7 linked regions of the Homo sapiens genome follow. The protein of the gene in region 4 interacts with the protein of the main gene of each other region in a pairwise test. Each region holds a gene or a part of one and is shown on either strand. Other genes may lie near its edges.

Region 1 (3,500 bases), on a different chromosome or scaffold from region 4:
TGCAATCTCCGCCTCCTGGGTTGAAGTGATTCTCCTGCTTCAGCCTCCCGAGTAGCTGAGATACAGGCACGCACCACCATGCCCGGCTAATTTTTGTATTTTTAGTAGAGATGGGATTTTGCCATGTTGGCCAGGCTGGTCTCAAACTCCTGACCTCAGGTGATCCACCTGCCTTGGCCTCTCAAAGTTCTGGGATTACAGGCATGAGCCACCACTCCCAGCCAACAATCTATTTTAAATCAATTACATTTTTTAAAAAATCAATAATTTTATCTAACTAGGACCATTATGGTATTCCAATCCAAGACATCCAAGGGCGGGGGCTGGAAAATCAGCAGGCCTGGTCTAGTCCCTGTGTGATCCTCTAATTACTTATTATCCTTTCCCCTCCAACCTCCCAAAAGGGAAACAGCATGTTCTTTGGTTTAGCAATCTTTTTTTGAGAGTCTCGCTCTGTCACCCAAGTTGGAGTGCAGTGGCGCAATGTCTGCTCACTGCAACCTCTGCCTCCTGGGTTCAAGCAATTCTCCTGCCTCAGCCACCTGAGTAGCTGGGGCTACAGGTGTGCACCACCACGCCCAGCTAATTTTTGTATTTTTAGTAGAGACAGGGTTTCATCATGTTGGCCATGCTGGTCTCCAACTCCTGACCTCAAGTGATCTGCCTGCTTGGCCTCCCAAAGTGCTGGGATTACAGGCGTGAGCCACCGCACTTGGCCAATGGTTTGGCAATCTTGATCCAAGACAAGGTGAGGCCTCCCTAGAAAGTTCACCTTAGCACGGTCATGGGCAACATCAAGTTGCAATCTCATCCTTTCGGAATTTTCAGAAACCAGCGCCCTTGGCCAGGATCTGAAACAGGCTCGCTTTAGGCCAAAACCCAAGTTGTGGTGGTTTGTGTTTTAAAGAATGTTTAATTGCATTTTGCTTTCCAATTTCAAGCAGACATTAGTATCCTCCACCGCCTACGATCCCACATGTTAGTGGCATTCAAGAGAATAAAACTGAGAGTTATCTGAAACAAGTGAAAACAGAACTGCCTGGAATTGGCTCAGGAATAAGAAAATTAGCCCTGCAGGGCCTCACCTGTTGCTTTATACAGTTCCTTAAGGTGTCCCTCCGGTAACCGGATCTGATGGACTGTCAGGTCTACGGTGCCACCGCCACTGTCCACAACCACATACTTATCACCTGGCACAAAAACAGCCATCTTTTACACAGACTGTTTGCCAACCCCATCTGAAACAAGCTTGTGGGTGGTAACTAGGTAGACCCAGCTAAGTGCCCTCAAAACTTCTCATTAGCACAATGGTTTTGCTAATTAGCAGCTCTAGGAGTTAACCATGACCAAAGAGAATGCAATCTGCCCAGGAGGATGGTTAGACATGGACGATGGAGAACCCAGGTGAGTGAATCTAAGATTCACACATTGCTGCATACCTGGCACGTACTTAGTGGGCAGTTTCCTGCCACGTGAATAGTGAGTGCCCTAAAATCATCTGCGTTTCACCAAAGACTTACTCTGGAACTGATCAATTCCAATCCCTACCTGGTTTTACAACATGCAAAATTACAGCTCCCAAAAGAGCTCTCCCTGCATGAGTGGTCTTTAGAACCCACTGAGTTTGAACATTTTCCAAAAGTGCAAAAGGGACAAATGGGAATGGCTTTTCACGAGCAGCACAGGAAAATCCAGCAAGAGCAAAGGACATTGAAGGACGCTACCTTCCTCCAGCTCGGACCAGATTTCTCCTATGACATTCTCCACCAAAAAGGTCCGACTCTGCCGATTACGCCGTATGTGTTCCTTAGCTAGTGGCCGACAGAAAGAAAATGATGACGGGTAAGAAAGCATGAAAAAGCAGAGATCATTTGCAGTCAGTGAAGGCAATAGCATGAGGAGATTTAGGGATGGAACATTAGTGACATTTGACCAAAATAAGTCAATACGATGTCGGGAATCACAAAGCCAGCTCTTCCCAGAGAAAGTGATTTCCACCGGCCTTCCTCTATTCCTCGGCTTAGCCTGTGCCCAGCTGAAAAGCCCACCCTGATGAGATTCTCACAACAACCCTTGGAATTAGGTGGAATTATTATCCCCATTTTCCACGTGAAAAAAACTGAAAGAAGAGAATGTGGTCAAATGTGCGCCACTGCACTCCAACTTGGGTGACAGAGCGAGACTCTCAAATGAGACCTACCCTGGTCACATTTTTTGGAGAATGGGTTAATGAAATCGCCTAGTTTCCCGGCTTTGCTGCCCCAGGGAGGAAGCTATCTGCCAAACAGCCTGCAGTGCGCTCAGTTAAACAATTCCAAATCAAGGAATTTTGTCTGATACAAGGAATTTGGGGTGTGTTTTCCTAACATGCACCCTGGGTAAATAGACTGGGGGGGGGGGCCATTTCCTGACCCAGCTGAAGCCAATATGCATTGCGGCCACAAGGTGGCGCGTCTGGGCCTGGCAAACCCCTGTGCTGCCTTTTCCATGAACACAGGGACAACCTCCGCTCCTGCTGTGGCTTGAGGTGCTGAGTGGCGGAGACGCCTATGTGGCTATGAGAGGGCACAAATCATTGTCCCTATGTTCGGAGAAGGAAATCAGGTCAGGAAAGGTTAAGGGGCTTGCAGTTCCCACAATTTTTTTTTCTTTGAGACGGAGTCTCGCTCTGTCTCCCAGGCTGGAGTGCAGTGGTGCGATCTCGGCTCACTGCAAGCTCCGCCTCCCGGGTTCACGCCATTCTCCTGCCTCAGCCTCCCAAGTAGCTGGGACTACAGGCACCCGCCACCTCGCCCGGCTAATTTTTTTTTTTTTTTTTTTTTGTATTTTTAGTAGAGACGGGGTTTCACCGTGGTCTGGATTTCCTGACCTCGTGATCCGCCTGCCTCGGCCTCCCAAAGTGCTGGGATTACAGGTGTAAGCCACCACGCCCGGCCCCACAATTCTTTTCTTGCAGCCTGAAATTAACCCTTAGACCTTAGGCCCTCGTGCCTTTGAGATTTAACAACAGTGCCCGGCGCCACCCCCATAGTGCTCTCACTTAGCGCTCATATTGGTGCCTTGACCCTGACAGGGCGTGTCTGCAAACCCTATAGCCCTCGACACACCCACAGAGCCCTGGATACCAGGGAACCAAGTTCTGTGACCAAGGCTATGACCTACTTGCATTCAGGTAATTATTAAAGAGGAAAAGCTTTTTAAAATCGCCATCCTCAGTCTCCCTAAGGCGGTGCTCCTTCCCACAGCTAAGCGAGCGTCACCTAGGTCAGGAAAAGTCAGCCGGTTTCATCTGCATTTTAAACTCATCGCACATGAAGCAGACCCAATGAGTGACTCAGCAATAAATCAACAGTCTTAATGGAGAATTAATAACAGGCAATGGAATTAGATTAAGAATCTGTTAATACACAAGAAAGATTAAGAGCCTAGTACAATGTGAGGCCAATAACCGCTCTCAGGCTACCCTCAGATTCTTAGAGAGAAGCTCCCCGCCCCCAGAC
Region 2 (3,500 bases), on a different chromosome or scaffold from region 4:
GCTGAGGCAGGAGAATGGCGTGAACCTGGGAGGTGGAGCTTGCAGTGAGCCAAGACTGCACTACTGCACTCTGGCCTGGGGGACACAGTGAGACTCTGTCTCAAAAAAAAAAAAAAAAAAAAAGAGAGTGAAAGAAAAAAACAACCCCATCAAAAAGTGGGCAAAGGATATGAACAGACATTTCTCAAAAGAAGACATTTGTGCAGCCAACAGACACATGAAAAAATTTTCATCATCCTGCTCATCAGAGAAATGCAAATCAAAACCACATAAGATACCATCTCACACCAGTTAGAACGGCGATCATTAAAAAGTCAGGAAACAACAGATGCTGGAGAGGATGTGGAGAAATAGGAATGCTTTTACACTGTTGGTGGGAGTGTAAATTAGTTCAACTATTGTGGAAGACTTGGTGGGAGTGTAAATTAGTTCAACTATTGTGGAAGACAGTGTGGTGATTCCTTAAGGATCTAGAACTAGAAATACCATTTGACCCAGCGATCCCATTACTGGGCATATACCCAAAGGATTATAAATCATTCTACGATAAAGACACACGCACACGTATGTTTATTGCAGCACTATTCACAATAGTAAAGACTTGGAACCAACCCAAATGTCCATCAATGATAGACTGGATTAAGAAAATGTGGCACATATATACCAGGGAATACTATGCAGCCATAAAAAAGGATGAGTTCATGTCCTTTGCAGGGACATGGATGAAGCTGGAAACCATCATTCTAAGCAAACTATCACAAGGACAGAAAACCAAACACCACATGTTCTGACTCATAGGTGGGAGTTGAACAATGAGAACACATGGACACAGGGCGGGGAACATCACATACCTGGGCTGGTCAGGGGGTGGGGGGCTGGGGGAGGGATAGCATTAGGAAAAATACCTAAAGTAAATGACGAGTTGATGGGTGCAGCAAACCAACATGGCACATGTATACCTATGTAACAAACCTGTACATTGTGCACATGTACCCTAGAATTTAAAGTATAATTTTAAAAAAAAAAGAAAGAAAAGAAAAAACAGTTGTCTCATCACTACAGGAATTCTCTGTAACTCTCCACTTGGGAACTAAACAATAAGGTGCTTATCACCTTATCACCCTTGGTTTGTCAAAACAAAACAAAAAGTATTCTTAACACCTCTAAGAATACACTAATATCCACATTAAAGCAGAATTTATTTTCTTTCAAGTATGCAAATTTGACCCTCAAAATAACCAAAAGGGTTTATGACTCTGCAAGTTTATATATGTGATGAAAATAAAAATAATGAGGTCAGAATTTTTAATTATTTCATGCTTATTTAAGGATGAGAGTTTTCCTCTTTTAAAATTTGATTCTCACAGAATCAAACTGAAAAATATACAATTTGATATACAACTGCTAAAACAAAATAAATGACCAAATTCCACCCCATACAATAAACTCACTACTTATTTGAGCATAATTATGTTCAACATTTAGAAATGTTCATTACTAAAAGACACAAGATGAAAATCAATTGTTCTACCTTATTAAAAGAATCTAAACATTTGTTTTTTGTATTACTATAACCTTTTCCTTTTTACCCTTAAACAACCAATATCAAGTTTCATCTCTACTGTTATTATCCCTATAAAATGTATAATTTTACCTAATACCATGTGTTGTTAAGATCTGTCAGCATTAGGCATTAAATTTTAGAAGAAATTATAGTCCACAGCAGCCTTTAAAAAGTAAAAATTAAGTAATTTTTCACAGCTTTTTATATGTGCCTATTTCTTTGGAAAGCTAGTTTTTAAACAAAGTTAGCATGATTTATTCTGGATTATCCCCAGGTCAAGTATCCTAATACTAAAATGAGCAAAAGGAAGAGATGGGTAGAAATATGTTATCATCCAAAACCATAAATCTATAAATAATCACAAATCAATGCATTTTTAGAGATTCTGGAATAGGGATGGTAAATAAATTTCATCTTAAAGACCAACTCCAAGCAAATGATAGTGGCTGTCTAAAGTACTCTGTTAAGAAAGTTTTTAAAACTAAGTCTAGCAGACACCATTTCCCATCTATCAGAATGCTAGATGTAGCATAGAAGACTTTATTGTTACTAGTTTAGATTCTTAATTCTGGGCTAAGAGCATTTGATCAAATCACATACAAACCAAATGATTTTGAACAAGTCACTTAACTCTCACAATCTCACTTTCTTCCTCTAAAAAATAAGAATCTTAACTATATCAAAAGTTTACCAAAATAATAAAATGTTAAAATGAAATAAATATATAAAAATGCTTTAAAAAGTATAAATCATACAAGTTATTATTATTGGGGTTTATGCTTCTTAAATATACTCAGAATTCTGATAAGTTGTTCTTACCAAGTTAGCAGCACTCACATTTGAAATATCTGAAGGGTCCATTTCATTTTCTATCCTTGCTTTCTCTGCTGGAAATTTTTCTTCATTTACTTGTAAAGGAGGTGTACCAGCTTGCAGCATAACTGAAACACACTCTGTATCAATGTGGACAGCAGATATTTCAGAAGTTCGAACATAATTGTCTCGAATACTGCCAGAATTCTTCACATCATCCAATGTACTCACTGTGAACTAACAAAACGTAGAGAATGAATCAGAGATAATTAAAAAATACCAACTATTCCACTTTAGAAGAAGAGATGATTTTGCTTAACCTATTAACTATGAAGAAGAAGAGGTACTTGACTGGATGACAGAAAATTTACTCATCTTTTTTGTATGTTTCAAGTGTAACAAAAGGACAGGGACCATTAAGCACAAATTTTACTTGCATGCCTACTATGTACTGGGCACTATCCAAAGTTTTCTAAGAAATTAAGCAATTTATATTGTAATTTTCTTGTAGTAGGCCAATTTGTGATGAGTATTTTGTATCCTTCGCAAATGAAATCTAGTCACAAGTATGAGGCATTCATTCACTGTATTATACTCATACAACCAAAAGTATTTACATGGTCTTTTGCAAAGACTGTCTAATATCAAATGAGGACATTCAGTACTTTTGAAAAAATCCTGAAACCAATTTTTACAACAATATATTTGGAGGGCATTTTACACAAAAATATAAAACTTATTCTCTTCAGATAATATTAACATGATCTCAAAGTATCTTTGTTAAAAATTCATATGGTACATGAACCCAATTCTCCGATCTGAAAGAGAAAAGCATGACCTAAGGGTGAAGATTGAAAGCATGTAGTGTCTCATTATGACATTCATACACTTTAGATTTAGATATCTTCCCTATTGTCCTTTAGGAATATTTAATAACAAACCAACAGAAATGTAAATACAATATAAAAAGCAAACAGTGGCTTAGGCTAAATACATACCCATTTTTTAAAAACCTTCCAATTTAGCAGAGTCAAGCCTTTATTTTTACTTTGGACAGAGAAGAGAAACAATAGTACTGTGTTTTCCAATGATACTCTAAGTCAAAGAACTAAAATCTAAAATT
Region 3 (3,500 bases), on a different chromosome or scaffold from region 4:
CAGATCCCTGAGGGTACACTCAGTCGGGGAAAGTGGAATGGCTGTGGATGGGGAGAGCTACCTCTGAGTGCCAACAGTATGCAGCACCTTTTACCCATTATCTCATAGGTATTAGCACCTGTGATATCAACTTAAGTTCAGTTCTTTGAAGTCAGGTGTTACGTCTCCTGTAGCACCATTCATAGGCACTTTCACATCATTGGTGCTTAGTAAAATGCCTTCCTCATGAAAGACTTGAAGGAATACGATACATTTCCAGAAATCTCTTCAAAAGAGCAAAAAGTTTCTGAGTTACAGATTTAGGAAGCTGAATCTGGTTAAAATCAAAGACTCTAGTATTTGCAGTTTTTGAAGGAAATTAAGCAGGGGAGAGAAGTATGCAGCTATTAAATTTCATTACTAAATGTCATCTTTAAAATTAATTCTTGGTCTGTACACTTTTAAAGTATTAACAATTTCTTAGTGTTTGAGTCATATACTTCGTTGTTAACAAATATTTCTTCAGCCTACTCCTTCCTACCCTTCAGCCATTGTTTTTAATTTTTTTCTTTTCTAAAGTTGTATATACAGCAAAAAGATAACATTTAATATTGATGGATAGGAGTCCTCTCTTGCATTAGCAATAGACTAGATAGTGAAAAGTTTAAAAAGGTCTGTAATTTCATATTGAAATTTCTAATTTTGCCTTAATAAAAAGAACTTACTTTTGAGAAAGGTTATGTTCTTTTTTTCACATGTATAAACAATGTTTAGTTGCTTATTTCAGCTCTCTTCTGAATGTTTGCTCTCTGTGCAGTTGATGAACTCCAGAAACGAGTGAACCAGTCTGAGAATTCAGTACCTCCACCACCTCCTCCTCCACCACCACTTCCCCCTCCACCTCCCAATCCTATCCGGTAAGCACATCCAGGAAGACTGCTCTGCATCAAATGTTCTTCTCCATCAGATTGTGCCATAAGAGGAGTCATCTTAAAAGCATGAAAGATACTAGCTGATGCTTCTCTTGGAAATTTTTCTAAAGGCCAGTGATATGGTTTGGTTGTGTCCCCACCCAAATTTCCTCTTGAATTGTAGCTCCCACAATTCTCACGTATCGTGGGAGGTAATTGAATCATGAGGGTGGGTCTTTCCATGCTATTCTCATGATAGTGAATCTCATGAGATCTGATGGTTTTATAAAGAGGAGTTCTCCTGCACAAGTTCTCTCTTCCCTGCTGCCATGTAAGATGTGACTTGCTTCTCCTTGCCTTCCGCCATGATTGTGAGGCCTCCCCAGCCATGTGGAACTGTGAGTCAATTAAACCTCTTTCCTTTATAATTACCGAGTCTCGGGTATATCTTTATTAGCAGCATGAGAATGGCCTAACAAGCCAATATATTATTCCCTTCTTGTAGTATACAAATTTCATTCAATAACATTAAGATTTCCTTTAATGGTAAGAACAAGGAATTTTGAGCTTTTCCAGAATGTGTTTACTTTTCTGTCTTGCTAATTCAAATTTGAAAAGCTGTGGTTTGTTCAATTATTTTAAAAATAAAAATACTAAATGAAAACGTAAACATGCTAATTGTTATAAACTAGTAATTAAACTAGAAGTATTAATTACTTTTATCCCTAACCTCATATTTATACCTTTAGTAATGCTAAGAGAGGAACCGTCCATAAGAAAGATAGATTATGTTTAAATTCTTGTGGCAGGAAGTCACATATGCAGACAGGAATTCGTATTTTCTGAAGCCTAAGGTGACATGATGGCATTATGTACATCACTTGAGCACAATACACACTAGGAGATTTAGAGTCAAATTTTGCCTTTTTTGTGGTTCCACATGCCACCATCTAGAATTACATAAGACAACCTCCTTGCCATGGTGACAGCTTACATGCTCATGTCATGATGTTAGCTGCTTTTGTATAATTTATTCTTTAACAAATGGCATTTTAAAACTTTTTCTAGGGTTTTTTTTTTTTTTAAACCTTTCATTAACTCATGTGATTTGTTTAATCCTTTCACACAGAGAGGCCATTTATTCATACTTTGCACCTTTGCTGATCCATCTGAATAGAATGCGTAGCATGTTCCTCCCACACAACTATGAAAATGGGACTTTGCCTTTTAAAAAGATTCTCATTAGTTTTCCTTACTGAGTAGGGTATGACATAATCTACTTTAAGCCATTGAAGTAGTTAAGGCAAAATAATTTTTACACGTGATCGATCCAAGAGTCAATTGAAAGAATTTCAGGTATTTTAAAATCTTTCTCTCCTGGGTAGCTAAATCTGTAGGAGATATTCTGGATTTGACATTTAAAATTGGAAATTCATCACTTTGATCTTTCTCTAAGGTCTGGGATTTTGAGCTGATAAGAAAGGTCACTTCTGTCCATGAAGAGGGAGAACGATTAAAAAGTAATTACAGTCTTGCTGTTGGCCTTTAATTTTTATTCTCAGAAATGTTGAGAGCCCCTAGAATTAAAAGTAAAGTATAACCTAAGTAGAATTTTTTTTCCCAAAGAGCACTTTACAGTTACGCTGAGAAACGAATGTTCAGGACTATTTGTGTCTCAAGTGTGAACTCTTTTATAAGGCTCTTTAAAGAAAATTTTATTGAATAATATGATTTTTATTTTAAGATGAATTTAAATAGTATAGGACATAATTTTTTAAAGAAAAGAGTTTTTTTTTTGTGAGGAGTGCTTTCTTGTCAAAGAGGTATATTTGCACATGTATTGAGTTTGAGTGGATTTTGAATTCACAAATCAAAGTTTTCTAACTTTGTTCCTGATCTATTTGTTTTATCCTGATGTAAATCATGGTTAGAAATGAAAGTGGGAAGAAAAAAAAAGACTAGGGCCTGTAGCTTAAGTGGCTTACTGCTTTTCCCTTCTCTTCCCACTCATTTGACTCCAAGAATAGATAGAAGAAAGAGGAAGAAGGCAAACCTTGGTCACTTTGTCCCAGTGGTAGTGAAAGTAGGACAGGTTCTATGCAGATATAGTTCATGGGGAGAGGGTTGAGGCTATTAAGTGCTTTTTTTAGAGAAACAGAACCAATAGAATGTGTATATCTATAGATACAGATATAGGCAGATATAAATACAGATTTATTATAAGGAGTTGGCTCATGTGATTATGGAGGCTGTCAAACCCCAAGATCTGTAGGGTGAGTTGGCAACTTGGACACCCAAAAGTGTCAATGGTGTGGTTCCAGGCTGAGTCTAAGGGCCTGAGAACTGGGAGAACCTATGGTGTAGTTTTATTCCAAAGTTTGACAGGCTCAAGACCCAGGAAGTGGCAGTGTTTCAGTTCAAGTTCGAAAGCAAGAAAAAGCCAATAACCCAGTTAGAAGGCAGTCAGGCAGGAGGAATTCCCTGTTAGTTGAGGGAGGATCAGCCTTGTTGTTCTAATTAGGCCTTCAAATGATTGGCTGAGGGCCACCCACCTCAGGGAGGACCATCTGCTTTACTCAGTCTACTGATTGAAATGTTAATGTCATCCAC
Region 4 (3,464 bases):
ATACATGCTGTAATATAGAATTAGTGGAACATTTTGATTAATCTTTCCCTAGAAGTGACTGAAATATTTTTGTGCATATTTGAGAAAGGGAACTTTCCTTTTATTAATTGTCAATTTAGAGAAACTATGCTTAAGCTGGTCTTTTGCATTGCTAATGTGACATGTACCCAACTTTTCATTAATTTGTATTTCCATTTTTAAATTGCATATTCTATGTTTTGTAGTGTTTGGATTGTTAATGAAAAAATATTATATGTTCGTTATTCCTTGTATTATTGCCACTTATCTTTTGCTTGATAAAAATGCGTTGTTCTTTTTTCTTTTGGAGGGACAAGATGAAAATATATAATTTGAATTGATTAAAATTGGTCGTTACTAAAATAGTATAGTAACCACAAGTGATTGGCTTATAAATGAAGTAGAAATGCTTTTTAATATTCCAAAATAGAGTTCCTTTTGATCTGTTGGTGCTGAGCCTTGGTTAAACCAGGGAGAAGGGGAGCAGAAAGGAAACGTTGTTACTGATGAGTACCACAGACTCATCTTAAAAAAAACTCTCATTATGGTGATCATAGAATTGACCATCCAAACTGGGACACTCTTGAGAGTAAATGGAGGGCATTATTAATAATTATCTTGTAATGAACTTAAATCTGGACTGTTCCAGGCAAACCAGACTTATCTTGCAATATGAGAATGCTGACACAATGCAGGAAAGCCAGTTTCCCTTTTGTTGATCTACTTGACCAAGCAAAGGGGCTGAAAAACTGAATAAGGAAACAACTTTATAAGAGAAACAGTGGTCTTCAATCTTTTAAAGACATGAAATCCTATATGGCATTCTGTCTCAGTGAGTCAGTTAACAAATACGTATGTGCAACCCTTCTGCTAGTAGTGCACATAAGTGATTATCCCTGCCAGGTATCGAGTTGGAATATCCAGTTATTTCATGTCACACATCGGCACGTATGATGGTGGTTTGGTCAGATGGATAATACAGCAGACACACTTAGAACACTCACTGCACTGGTGGCTGTTCATTTTGAGGAACTCCAAAGTCAATTCAAGGAAATAAGGAATGACCTGGAACAGGCCTTAGAAACAATTGATTTATTCCAATAGTTAACCACTGGCTGGCTCCCAACTCTAGGTGATAGGCATCTAATTGAGACATGTGTGAGTCAATAGCCATCGGGGTCCTTTTTGGTGAGAAGAAATAAGACATTTTCTCCCTTTTAAAGATCATCTCTTCAGAGCTGCATGGTAAATTTGAATTTCCCCATTGTTCTCTAGAGCTAGGTCAAAAAAACAACTGTTTCTTTTCTTATTCCACTATTAATAAATTGAAAGCTTGCTGTACAAAGGCAACAGCAACTTAAAAAAGAAAATCTGGACAATAGATGTGGACTCCAAGGGGCCACTGCCATCCCTTCCTGTGTGCTCTTTTTGACAAGTAAATCACTCCAGTTAGCTGATGTCCTGAAATGACATTTGTACCTGAGGCAATTCTTATTAGAGCTTACTCAGGACTTTTCAAACATCAGGACACACATAGCAATTTGGATGTTGTAAAACTACGTGTTACATTTGGAGAGGTCTTGTTGAGAAGGCAAAATTTTCTAAATATTTTGATATCAATTTGGGTAAAGAAAGGAATACTTTTGTTAGAATGAGAATTAAAGAGAAAACAAAAGAATCTTGGCAAAATTTTCCCTCTGAAATTACAAACTTTAGGAACTTTTCCAGATGTATCGAATTTAATTTGACATTGATGTCACTCTTCATACCAAGTGAATCTATTCTCATGAACTTTGAACCCATGTTAATTTTGGACCCTATAACTAATTTCCTTTCTGTATCCCATGGTGGTCAAAGCAGTAAAGGAGTTTAGAGATACTTAGCAAATGCCATTCATATAGTATTGTTAGCCAAACTATTATTCCTTCCTTAGAAGTTGATGTATCAGAAAATTTATAAGTTATTTGTATTTATATATAAGTACATCAGAACTTGCCCACATGATAACTCATGTTTGCTTTAATAAGGAAAATATGTTATTTGAGGTTAATTATATGATAGTGAGGAACATTTTACAATTATTTACAGTGTTTGACATTAATTGCTGTCCTATGATACAGTAGTAATGTTAACAGAGAGTTTAATATGTTTAGCATTATCTTTATGGAATTTATATTCACCAATTTCAGGAAAACCAACCATAGAACTTTATAATAGGACAGTTATAACCTGACTGAACCAAATCCATCAGCATAATGACTGTGTGTTCTGAGAAATGCAAACAACTTTATGAAAGTGTGGTCATCTTGACCCCCAAAGAGCCACAGTAGCTGTCAATTATTGAGATTTTTAAATGGTAAATATTGCAAAAGTTAAACAAGGGTACCACAATATCATTTATAATTGATGTCAATATTAGTAGTCCACTTTATGCTTAAAATAAAATCATAAAAAATCAAGTTTTAAGGTTATATTTTTTAAAATAATGAATTTTCTATCTCTAGGCAACATGTCTTTATTATTCAAGCTGAATGTTTAAGAGAGATTTTGGTCTTAAAGGCTTCACATCATGAAAGTGTACATGCATATGCAAGTGTGAATTACGTGGTATGGATGTTTGCTTGTTTATTAACTAAAGATGTACAGCAAACTGCCCGTTTAGAGTCCTGTTAATATTGATGTCCTAACACTGGGTCTGCTTATGCTAGTTCAGTATTTGGTCTAGGCTTCATTTTGATATGACTGAATTGCAATCTATATTTTTAAAAAGAAAAATCAAAATACATTAGGGTTTACTTGGTTGTGGCAAACAAACAAAAAATGCTTTCAGTGTTGAAATATCTCTATTTTCCAAAGATGATAAACTTTCATCGTTCTTAGCCTACATTGTCATTTATATCACCAAATGAGTTTATAGATTAATGCAATAAACTTTCTAATAAAAAACTCTAGTGTTTCTTTCTATATCTGATTCTACTGTTGATTAATGAGAGAAAAAACCTTGTGCTCGTATGGAAAAAATAATATTTTTTCTTGTTCTTGAAGGACAGAGGCAACATTTTATTCATATTTGGATCCCTGGAACTCAGGTTAGGGGCTGATAGTCAAGTCTTCTGTAACTAGCTTTAGGTTATCTTATGTGGATTTGCTTTCTAAATCTCAGTGCCCATTAGTACTTTCATTTATGACTAAAACATCTTTGAAACATTTGCATTATAGCACTGCGGAGCAGGGATCAAACATGAGTAAAACATTGTTTCTTCTTTCAATAGCTGTTTCTTTACTGGGGCCCTGAATGCCAAGCACAGCTGGGGATGCAGAGACGTGTAAGGCATGAGCTGTTTTGGAGTCCTTCATTATTTAGTTAGGGAAATAAAGCATATGGCTGGCTGTGTGACTGGTTCTGTGGGTTAAGTTAGCCTCTTAAGGCCTTGGCTTCTATATTG
Region 5 (3,500 bases), on a different chromosome or scaffold from region 4:
CACTGTCTAGGCTCAGTGGTAGGCTCCCCAAAGTGCCCAGGGAGGCCCAGAGTGAAAAAGAAGCTCTGTCCTTACCAGTGTCTCCACCACTACAGGTACCAGGCTGCCTAGGAAGCCAGGTGGTGCCTTTAAGATCTCCATGGAGAAACGCACAGCTCGACGCAGGATCCGACGAAGAACCAGCCTAAAGGGGTTCAGAGCCCAGACATGAATCCCCAGCGGCTCATGGTCAGCAATATGGGGAGTGGGAAGGACGAGGTCCAGTGTGTGCTCCCACCTCAAAGCTCTCCCTCTCCCCATTCCTCCTACTGGCTCAACCAGACCCACCTCTCCTGTTCCCTCCCTCCTCCACCTGAGACCCCCAGCAGCCCCTGTCCTCTCTGTAGCCCTTCCAGACTCACGGGGGACCTGACATCCCAGGGAAGATGCCATCAGAGATGCAGACACTGAGTGTGCGGATGTGGTCAGCCACCACGCGGTACGCTGTGTCTGTGCGCCCCTCGTCTGCCACCCCTACTCGGCCCAAGTAAGGGGGTGCCCTGCAGCCCTGGGAAGCAGAAGAGTCAGCCAGTGGCCCTGCCTGACCTGGCCCAGGTGGGTGCTCTTTATCGCCTCTAGAGCATCTGCCCTCAGCCCTAAAGCCAACCACATCCAGAATGGCCTTGCCAGTCCAGTCCTGGGCTGAGAAGCCTCACAGATGAGCACAAGCCAGGCCCTGCCCTCACGGGGCTCATATTTGGTGCTACAAGTGAACATATCTGTGACCATTTACTGAATTTCTACTATCAGAACTGGGTGAGTACTTGAACAACATGGCCTCGAATCCCCAAAACAGCCCATTCCAGGAGGTATTAGCATGCTTGCTTTAAAGAAGAAGAAGCTGAGGCTCAGAGGAACTCAGTGACACAAGGCTACCCAGCTCTCAAGGAGCAGATCTGAGATCTCAGCCGGGCCTGTTGGACTCCAGGTGCTCTCCACTACCTGTTCTTGCCTCTCCCATCTTTTGTGGGGGTGGGCAGGGAGGGAGAGTGTAAGCTACATACACGGAAATGCTCCAAAGCAGGGAGCTTGATTCACTTACCACCAAACCTCTCTCTTCCCCAAGCTTCTTCGTCTAACAGTCATGCCATTCACTGTGTTGCTCAAGTCAATAGCCTGGGAGCCATCTTTGAATTCTTTTTCCCCTACCCGTCATGATCCATCAGTGGTTCCTTTTGCTCCTACCTCCATGACATCTCTCAAATCAATCTACTTGTCTCTACTTCCACTGCTATTATCCGAAGCATGCCCTGTGGTCCTTGCCTGGACCGATAATAGCCTCCCAACTGATTCCTAAGTTTCTGCTCTCATCTCCCTCCAGCTCATCCTCCACACAGCAACAGGAGTAGCCTTTTAAAAGTGTACATCAGGCTGGGCGCGGTGGCTCACACCTGTAATCTCAACACTTTGGGAGGCTGAGGCGGGTGGATCACCTGAGGTCAGGAGTTTGAGACCAGCCTGGCCAATCCTGGTGAAACCCCATCTGTACTAAAAATACAAAAATTAGTCAGGTGTGTTGGCGGGTGCCTGTAATCCCAGCTACTCTGGAGGCTGAGGCACGAGAATTGCTTGAGCCCCGGAGGCAGAGGTTGCAGTGAGCCGAGATCATGCCACTGCACTCCAGCCTGGACAACAGAGCAAGCAAGACTCTGTCTCAAAAAAAAAAAAGAAGGGTTCTCAGTGGGGAGTGTGGCATGATCTGATGTACACTTTTATTTATTTATTTTTTTTGAGATGAACTCTCACTCTGTTGCCCAGGTTAGAGTGCAGTAGCACGATCTCAGCTTACTGCAACCTCCACCTCCTGGGTTCAAGAGATTCTCCTGCCTCAGCCTCCCAAGTGGCTGGGACTACAGGTGTGTGCCACCATGCCTGGCTGATTTTTCTATTTTTTTAGTAGAGACAGGATTTTGCCATGTTGGCCAGGCTGGTCTCCAACTCCTGACCTCAAGCGATCCGCCCCCCTCTGCCTCCCCAAGTGCTGGGATTACAGGAGTGAGCCACCGTGCCCAGCCCTGAGAACTCTTCTCACCACTCTGAGAATCAAGGCCCCACTTTGGACTTTGAGGCCCACAAGACTGGATTCTGCCTTCTTCTCTGTGAGACTGTTCACAAAAATGGCCCTTTCCTAGGCATATGCCACTTTAAAATGGGACTTTACAGCTGTTTCCCATCAAGGGACAGAATCCATTTCTCCATCCCCTGAATCTCTGCTGGCTTTGTGACTTGCTTTGGCCCATAGAATACAGTGGAAACAACACTGTTCTGAGCCTATGTGTCTGCTCTCTGTCTTGGAACCTTGCTGAGCTGTGATGTGGACAAGCCCAGACTAGCCAGCTAGGTGATGACAGACACATGGTCCAGTCACCCCTACTGCCCCCAAACTGACAGCCAGCCAAGCCCCAGAGGAGCTGCGGCCTCTCAGCTCACCACAGATGGATGAATGAGCTCACACAAGACCAAAGAATGAGCCAGCTAAGCCCAGCCTAAACGCTAGCTCACAGACTCAGGGGGCAGATACATGGTTGTTGGTTAAGCCACAGAGCATTAGGGTGGTTATACAGCAAAAGCCAACTGACACATGTTCCTACTATATCCCATGGGATTCTCCTTTAGCTGGCTGGCCACCTTTTAGTTTTTGGCACATGTCAAGCCCTTTCTTGCGGGGCAAGGAGGGAGGGTATAAGCTACACACATGTGGAAATGCTCCAAAGCAGGGAGCTTGATTCACCTAGCTCCAAACCTCTCTCTTCCCCAAGCTTCTTCATCTCAGTAAACAGTCATGCCATTCACTGTGTTGCTCAAGCCAATAGCCTGGGAGCCATCTTTGATTTCTCTTTCCCCTCCCCATCTAATCCATCAGTACCAAGGCCCTTGGTACCTGCTGTCCCCTCTGCCTGGAAAGAACTTCCTGTAGCTGACTCCTCCTTTGGGGCTCAGCTCAAAGGTCATCTTCTTGGTGAGCCTTCCCCAAGCACCTTATCTAAGATTCCTCTGTACCCCTCCTTCTTCCTAGTTACTTTCACCCATGTTTACTGCCTGTTCACAATCTGTAAGCTATTACCTTGTTCTTTAACACATTTATTGATTGTCTATCTCTCATGCTAGCATATAATCTCCATGATCTCTTTCCTGCTTACTGCTGTGTCTTCTGTACCAAACACAAAGGATTTAACATAAAGTAAGCACTCAACACGTATTTTCTAAATAAATGAAAGAGGCAAGGAGTTAGGAGGAACATCAGGTAATAAGTAATGAATCCTAGTGTCTTGCTTGACGTCTTGGAATTCTTGGTTGGTTATTGTCCTCAGATGCTGAGAACACTCTGAGTTCTCAACAAAGATGGAATGCAATGGGGCTGAGGGCTGTGAAGAGCAGGTTAGAGGGCTTCTGGAAGGGAAGAGGCACTCACCTGCTGTATGGCGTTGAGCAGCGGGGAAAAGAGGTCAGTGTCATAGGTG
Region 6 (3,996 bases), on a different chromosome or scaffold from region 4:
TGGCACATGCCTGTAATCCCAGCTACTCGGGAGGCTGAGGTAGGAGAATCGCTTGAACCCGGGAGGCGGAGGTTGCAGTGAGTCGAGATCACACCATTGCACTCCAGCCTGGGCAACAAGAGCGAAACTCCATCTCAAAAAAAAAAACAAAAAAGATGATCCTCTCTGAGTCAATTCCTTCATTTGTAAAATAGGGGTAGTAATGAGTACCCCACCCATTTCACAGGTTTTATTAGATTAAGTATGAGGAGACAGAATCTTGCAAAGCACACAAAAGCCAAGGGTCATTAGAGGTTGAAAGGAGAAACTACAACAAATTCCTATGTGTATCCTGCATGGAGCTGTCTATAGAAGGAGGGAGGGAGCAAGGTAGGCAAGAAAATACCATAGCCTGGGCGCCACAGGCAGCTAAGTGTTAGTCAAGGAATACTGCCTGCCAGATTTTCAAGAAGAGCCTGCTCCAGAGAAATAGGAGGGACCTTTAAAATCATCCAGGTCAACCCCTCGTTTAACAGATGGGAGGCTTCGCCCTGAGAGAGGCCCAGTAACCCACCAAAGATCTTTAGTGGCGTGACAGAGGGACCAGGGATATGTCTAATAACTGAAATGTCTGTATAATCACAGTGTACACAGTATTTCTACCCAAATTATCTTACTTATCTTCACAAGTAGCCTTTGAGCTGAGTGGGAAAGTACTATTAAAATTCCTATTTTTCAACCTGAGGTCGAATGACTTGTCCAGGGAAAGATTCAAATCCAGACGGTCACACCCCGAGTCCACTGCTCTTTCTCTATACCACAACTTCATGCCTGTGCTGGGTTTTAGCACAATCATTTCAACTTTCATCATATTGCAGATTCCGAATTCTGTTTCATTACAAGTTCTTTTTCCTCTTATTTCACACTGCCTTCAGCAATATTTCACATTCAACCTTACCTGGTAGGATCCTACTGATCTTTTGTCGTAAAAGTTCAGTGCCCACAATTGGCACCAGAAACTTTTTTCTAAACTTGAATTATCAAAACTGGGCCTTCCCATATAAATCATCTTTACAAAGTATGTCCTCACAAGTGTATCATTTGAGATGTGCACGATTATTACAGCAAACACGTTGGACTAATTGAGGCAACATTTAACATGCAAGTACCAAGAAAGCAGCTTTCACAAATGTGTAGAAAACCAAGGCAAATAGTTCCTGGCTTTATCAATAAAAGCTGATTTGCATTCATGGGAGGACCTCCAAGCACAGTCAGCAACAGAGAAAATGATCCCGATAATTCCAGTTGCCCACATCCAGAGGTTCTGAACCTGAATGTGTGTCTTTACTGAGGGAGGTCCAGGGAAGGCCAAGGGGAAGAAAGTGCTAAGAAAAAACTGACTGGGAACTGTCTCAATGTCCTCTTGCCCTTACTTAGTCTGTGGGGCCTGACGTTCCATCACAACCCTTATTTCAGGAGCAAGCAATGCATGTTTTGCTCCTCTTTTCAACTCAGGGAAGAAGATTAAAATTGCTCAGTCTCCTTGGCTTGCAGAGATTTCTCGCGGGGATCATCAGGGGTGTGCTTAACCCTCCAGGCAGCACAGTAAAACAGGCCTAGCGGCCGAGCTGCGCAGGGGCGCTCCCATGTAACCTGCCTCTCCCTGCACTTTCTTATAAACAAGCCTTCAGTGGCGTGGCAATCATTTCTGCTGAAAAGCACTGGCATTCGTTCCTCTTATGCCCTCTCCTTTCTCACTATCCCCAAAACCAGAACATAACTTCCCACCCACCCTACTCCCGTCAGAAGCAGCTAACGGATGGTAACAGCCCAGCAGCCCTCGGTTTGGAGCTCAACGGACTCGGCAACCACCTGGTGAAGGCACCAGCCTCGGCCCCCCGACCCCCACCAGCGGCGCGCCCCAGGGATGCCCCCCGCTGGGCACCGCAGGCAGGACCCAGAGCAGCGAGGCCCAGATGCCGGGCAACCCCCCAGGAAGCGCGCTGCCCCGGGGCAGCGGGTGAGGCCAGGAGCCAGATGAAGCCCAGAGACCATCCTCACCCGCCATTAATAAAACGCAGGAAAAATTAAAGCTTCGTTTACCGACATGAGTGATCACTGTGGCCAGTCGCCGGGTGAGCTCCTGGGGAGGCATCTCTTCTTTTAAGCAAGACAGCATTTCACTGAAAAACCATTCCGTATAAATAAAGCCAAACAAAACTGTTTCTACCGCTGCGGTGGATGATTTTTTAAAGGCATCTCCGCCCAAGGATGCTCTGCCCTCGCCCTCTTCCTGGCTCTCCAGGCAAGAAACGAGAGTCCCTCGCAGCCTAGGCCAGCTCTCCCTCGCCACGCCCCGCGGGGGCTCCCGTGACAGACCAAGTCTGGCGCTTTCCCAGCGTCGCAGCTGGACCGAGAGAGGAGCGGCCGTTCTGCAAAAGGAAGCAAGTCGCCAATCTCGCCGGAACCGCGCCCCGGCTCCTCCGGCCGGGCGAGCTCCGGGGCTTCCAGAATCGCGGTCCCGGCCGCCAGGTTTCCGGCGCCGCCTCCAGGGACTGTAGAGTGAGGGATGCTCCGCCAGGTGCAGGGGAGGCGGCAGGTGGCCGTGGCTTCTCTGCGCCGCCGGCCCCACGCCCCAGCGCCCACCTCGTCCAGCCCACGGGTGGCGCCCGGGGCTCTCGGGGAGGCACGCACGCTCCCAAGCGCCGCTCGTTTTGGGGTCGGGAACGCTGCGCACCTTTCCCTGCGGGGAGCCCGCGCTCCACCCCCGGAGTGGAGCTCCGGTCCTTACTCGGAACCGTGGGGCGGGGAGACAGTGACTGAGGCGCTCCAGTCGCACCGGGGTCCGGATCATCAGACGCGCGCCGGCCAGGTCTCCGCCCCTCCTTCTTCCGCGCCGGGTGTCTGCGGAGGAGCCGCGGAGAGAAGGGGGCTGGCCCGGAGAGCTGCCGCCATCCGGCAGGACCCGGAGCGGGAGGCTGGGTGAGGCGCCGCTGCTTGCCCCACCTCCTGACCCCGGGGGCGGCTGGCGTGTGTTTTCCCCCACTTGGGGTTGTTCCACGCAGTTCTTGACCTCCGCTGGCCACACCTGCACTGGGAGCCCGGCGCCCGGGCTGCGCTCCGACAAGGCTGAGCACGCGTGGGCGCGCTCACCCCCTATGTGGGCGTTTTCCTTCGTGCAGCTGCGCCCTTGCCTCTGCTCCGTCTGTCACCTGTCAGGCACGCCAGTGCTACCTTCTGGAGGGGCTGTGGCACATCCTCCATGCTGGTCCTCCTCCCCATCAGCCCATTATCCCGTGGTTTCCCTAGTTGGGCCCAGACACTTTCTGACTGGCAGCAAAAGACTAACCCCAGTTCAGCAGAGCGCTACGGGAAACGCCTGAGCAAATGCGAATTCGGTCAGGTTGTCCCCCAATCCTTTCTACAGCGGGAGTCCCTGAATACTCAGCAGGCGGAATGGCGGGACCACCCAGGCGGATGTTCTCAGCCATCTCTTTCCTCTTCGATATGTAAAAAGCCAAGCCGCAAACACCCTGGATCCAAATTCTAGGAGTAGCCACCCATCACAGGGGGCTGAGGGTATTTTTTTAATGCTTTCTCTTTTCTTCTTTTTTTTGGAGACTGAGTCTGGCTCTGTCGCCCAGGCTGGAGTGCAATGGCGCGATCTCAGCTCACTGCAAGCTCCGCCTCCCGGGTTCACGCCATTCTCCTGCCTCAGCCTCCCGAGTAGCTGGGACTACAGGCGCCCGCCACCACGCCCGGCTAATTTTTTGTATTTTTTAGTAGAGATGGGGTTTGTTTCACCGTGTTAGCCAAGGATGGTCTCGATCTCCTGACCTCGTGATCCGCCCACCTTGGCCTCCCAAAGTGCTGGGATTACAGGCGTGAGCCACCGCGCCCAGCCCTTTTTAATGCTTTCTCTAACAATTGTGGGCTGTGATTGAGAAGCGAGGTCAGTTCACCTGTGTCATGAGATTTGTGGAGAGGTTCTTCCCCCTGTGAAGTTTGGGCACTTTG
Region 7 (3,500 bases), on a different chromosome or scaffold from region 4:
GTGACAAAAGCAAGATTCTGTCTCAAAAAAGCTGGGTGTGATGGCATGCACATATAATCCCAGTTACCCAGGAGGCTGAGGTGGGAGGACTGCTTGAGCCCAGGAGGCCGAGGCTGCAGTGAGCTATGATTATGCCACTGCCCTCCAGCCTGGGCTCAAGACCCTATCTCAAAAGAAAAAAGAATCAAAAGTAATTCCCTTAAAGTTTATAGGCTGTACTATTCACAACAGCAAAGACATCTAATCAACCTAAATGCGCATCAATGAAGGACTGGATAAAGAAAACGTGGTACATATATACCATGGAATACTATGCAGCCATAAAAAAGAATGAGATCATGTCCTTTGCGAGGACCTGAATGGAGTTTGAGGGCATTATCTTTAGCAAACTAACACAAGAACAGAAAACCAAATACTGCATGTTCTCACTTATAAGTTAAATGATGAGAACACATGGTCACATAGAGGGGATCAACACACTGGGGCCTATTGAAGGGTGGAGGATGGGAGGAGGGAGAGGAGCAGGAAAAATAACTGATGAGTACTAGGCTTAATATCTAGGTGATGTACAACAAACCGCCATGACACAAGTTTTTTTTTTTTTTTTTGAGACAGTCTTGCTCTGTCGCCCAGGCTGGAGTGCAGTGGCACGATCTCGGCTCACTGCAAGCTCTGCCTCCCAGGTTCACACCATTCTCCTGCCTCAGCCTCCTGAGTAGCTGGGACTACAGGCGCCCGCCACCATGCCCGGCTAATTTTTTTATTTTTTTAGTAGAGACGGGGTTTCAGCGTGTTAGCCAGGATGGTCTCAATCTCCTGACCTCGTGATCCGCCTGCCTCGGCCTCCCAAAGTGCTGGGATTACAGGCGTGAGCCACTGCGCGCTTGGCCTCATGACACAAGTTTACCTACGTAACAAACCTGCACACGTACCCCTGAACTTAAAAGTTAAAAAAAAAATTAAAAAAGAAACATCATATTGTTAAAAAAAAAAAAAGTTCAGAGGCTGTGAACTGGCATCTCCTTGGGCAACTGGAACATTTAACATGACTTGTATAGAATTTTAAAAATCAAAGGGCTGGGCACGGTGGCTCATGCCTATAATCCCAGCACTTTGGAGAGCCGAGGTGGGCGGGTCACCTGAGGTCAGGAGTTCAAGACCAGCCTGGCGAATGTGGTGAAACCCTGTCTCTACAAAAATTAGCCAGGCATGATGGCAGGTGCCTGTAATCCTAGCTACTCAAGAGGCCAAGGTAAGAGAATCGCTTGAACCCGGGAGGCGGAGGTTGTAGTAAGCCAAGATCGCGCCATTGCACTGCAGCCTGGGGTGAGAGAGTGAGAACTCTGTCTCAAAAAAAAAAAAAAGAAGAAAAAAAAAAAAGAATTAAAAAAATTTTCCAGCCTATTTTGACAAAATCAGGAGCTATGGCAGCAATGACTGTTTATTACTGAATGGCAACAAATGGCTGGAGCTGGGTTGCTACCACATCTGTTCTAGTTTGCCACAGTCCTCTCCGCTTCTTAATATTTCAAATCTAGATTGCTTCACTTATTTGTAAGACCTGAATGACCTCTGTAAGCTTTTGGTTTGTAATCCTGTAAATCAGCAACCTAATGGTAACAAAGCTACCATTTCACTGGGTTCCTAGCCTGCCACTTTACAGAGACTGTCTCAGTTATTTCTTACCATATCTTTTGAAGGTAGGCATTATTATTATCCATGTTTGATTGCTGAGGATCACATGAACCCAAGTCACACAGTCAGTCTGCATGACTATATCTATCAACTCCCAAGTTCTCTATCTGTGCTAGTTTGCCTCTGGTTATGATTTTCTTCATTTCATTTAACAAACACTTATAGTACAGTTACTAAATTAATAAGTTTACAAATATCACCTTGCTCATCTAAATAACAATCCTGTAAGAACAAAGATCTGTAAGAAATTGCCTTTTTTGCAAATCAATATTACAGATGTTGGCAATTTCATATGGTTCAACTTAATGCTTATTATTATCCCCATTTTATAAAAGGGGAAACAGCCACAGAAAATTAAGTAACTTGTCCAGAGCCAAGCTCAGACTAAAACCCAACAGGCTGGTTCGAGTTTTGTTCCTGACCAGCATATTCAGCTGCCTCTCATCACAAAAGGGAACTTTACACATTGTGGCAGCATCAGATTATCAAACAGGTAAAGTTTTGGACTGATGCTTCTCCTGGAGGCTACCTCAAAGTACTGAGGCCAGAGACATATTTGTGTCCCCCAGGATGACCCCTACCTGCACTGGTCCATTCATGAGACTTTCCCAGTGCTGGGGTGAGATGTACTTCTGCAGGTACTGTTCCCGTAGGACACCACGCATGGTGCACTCCAGGGTCTTGGCTCCTTCATGAAGCTCTTGCTCTGACTCCTTCATCTGTGTCATGATCTTCCAAGAACAGAGGGAAAGAAATGATGAGGAAATATCATCATCCCCCAAACTCAGTCCTCACCTTGAGGGAAAGCAAAGCTAAGACAGGAACAGTAAGGAGGGAGAATAAATAAATAGACTGGTCAACAAACCAATTTCCCAAGGCACATTATTGTGGTCTTGAAACCAAAGAACTAGTATCGGTTGAGTGTGGTGGCTCATGCCTGTAATACCAGCATTTTAGGAGGCCAAGGCAGGTGGATCACTTGAGGTCTGTAGTTCAAGACCAGCCTGGCCAACATGGCAAAACACTGTCTCTACTAAAAATGCAAAAATTAGCCAGGCGTGGTGGCAGGTTGAATATCCCTTATCCAAAATGCTTGGGACTAGAAGTGTTTCAGATTTTGGAATATTTGCGTTTATACTTACTGGTTGAGCATTGCAAATCTGGAAATCCAAAATGTGAAATAATGTTGGGCCGGGCGCGGTGGCTCACGCCTGTAATCCCAGCACTTTGGGAGGCCGAGGCGGGTGGACCATGAGGTCAAGAGATCGAGACCAGCCTGGCCAACATGGTGAAATCTTGTCTCTACTAAAAATACAAAAATTAGCCAGGTGTGATGGCGGGCGCCTGTAATCCCAGCTACTCAGGAGGCTGAGGCAAGAGAATCGCTTGAACCTAGGAGGTGGAGGTTGCAGTGAGCCGAGATTGTGCCACTGCACTCCAGCCTGGGTGACTGAGCAAGACCCTGTCTCAAAAAAAGAAATAATGTTGGCACTCAGAAAGTTTTGGATTTGGATTTTCCAATTTGAGATGCTCAACCTACACAACAGAAAAACAAACAGGCCAAGAATACTGTGGGAGAGACTTCAAGGCTCACAATATCTGTTCTCTCTCTTTTCCTTAGTAATAAGAACTCAGATTTTTGACTGGGCACATTGCTGCCCAGCTAAAAGATGACATTTCCCTGGTCAGTTGGCTGTACACAGAGGTGCTGTGGGTGGTATGGGGGAAGGAGCGTTAAGGTAGGGTGGGGATGGGCAGTGTTTCCTTGTCTTTTCTCCATCTTGGATTGTGAAGGCAAAGGTCAT

The links.
Region 1: the proteins of MEGF10 (region 4) and HSPA12A interact in a two-hybrid assay, tested with the Homo sapiens proteins (one large-scale study listed by IntAct).
Region 2: the proteins of MEGF10 (region 4) and SCAPER interact in a two-hybrid assay, tested with the Homo sapiens proteins (one large-scale study listed by IntAct).
Region 3: the proteins of MEGF10 (region 4) and SHTN1 interact in a two-hybrid assay, tested with the Homo sapiens proteins (one large-scale study listed by IntAct).
Region 5: the proteins of MEGF10 (region 4) and AARS2 interact in a two-hybrid assay, tested with the Homo sapiens proteins (one large-scale study listed by IntAct).
Region 6: the proteins of MEGF10 (region 4) and MCF2L2 interact in a two-hybrid assay, tested with the Homo sapiens proteins (one large-scale study listed by IntAct).
Region 7: the proteins of MEGF10 (region 4) and ZNFX1 interact in a two-hybrid assay, tested with the Homo sapiens proteins (one large-scale study listed by IntAct).

Annotation. Positions count from the first base shown.
Region 1 is NC_000010.11:116,680,067-116,683,566, forward strand, and holds part of HSPA12A (heat shock 70 kDa protein 12A), read right to left. Parts: intron 1,812-3,500; coding exon 1,725-1,811; intron 1,191-1,724; coding exon 1,086-1,190; intron 1-1,085. UniProt on the Homo sapiens protein: Adapter protein for SORL1, but not SORT1. Delays SORL1 internalization and affects SORL1 subcellular localization.
Region 2 is NC_000015.10:76,769,341-76,772,840, forward strand, and holds part of SCAPER (S phase cyclin A-associated protein in the endoplasmic reticulum), read right to left. Parts: intron 2,615-3,500; coding exon 2,402-2,614; coding exon of another isoform or gene 2,384-2,401; intron 1-2,383. UniProt on the Homo sapiens protein: CCNA2/CDK2 regulatory protein that transiently maintains CCNA2 in the cytoplasm.
Region 3 is NC_000010.11:116,925,188-116,928,687, reverse strand, and holds part of SHTN1 (shootin-1), read left to right. Parts: intron 1-796; coding exon 797-896; intron 897-3,500. UniProt on the Homo sapiens protein: Involved in the generation of internal asymmetric signals required for neuronal polarization and neurite outgrowth.
Region 4 is NC_000005.10:127,458,259-127,461,722, forward strand, and holds the end of MEGF10 (multiple epidermal growth factor-like domains protein 10 isoform a precursor), read left to right. Parts: 3' UTR 1-2,964; downstream 2,965-3,464. UniProt on the Homo sapiens protein: Membrane receptor involved in phagocytosis by macrophages and astrocytes of apoptotic cells. Receptor for C1q, an eat-me signal, that binds phosphatidylserine expressed on the surface of apoptotic cells. Cooperates with ABCA1 within the process of engulfment.
Region 5 is NC_000006.12:44,306,848-44,310,347, forward strand, and holds part of AARS2 (alanine--tRNA ligase, mitochondrial), read right to left. Parts: coding exon 3,452-3,500; intron 595-3,451; exon of another isoform or gene 548-594; coding exon 402-547; exon of another isoform or gene 387-401; intron 229-386; exon of another isoform or gene 185-228; coding exon 76-184; intron 1-75. UniProt on the Homo sapiens protein: Catalyzes the attachment of alanine to tRNA(Ala) in a two-step reaction: alanine is first activated by ATP to form Ala-AMP and then transferred to the acceptor end of tRNA(Ala). Also edits incorrectly charged tRNA(Ala) via its editing domain.
Region 6 is NC_000003.12:183,425,820-183,429,815, forward strand, and holds the start of MCF2L2 (probable guanine nucleotide exchange factor MCF2L2), read right to left. Parts: upstream 2,801-3,996; 5' UTR 2,159-2,800; coding exon 2,083-2,158; intron 1-2,082. UniProt on the Homo sapiens protein: Probably functions as a guanine nucleotide exchange factor.
Region 7 is NC_000020.11:49,261,058-49,264,557, forward strand, and holds part of ZNFX1 (NFX1-type zinc finger-containing protein 1), read right to left. Parts: intron 2,427-3,500; coding exon 2,277-2,426; intron 1-2,276.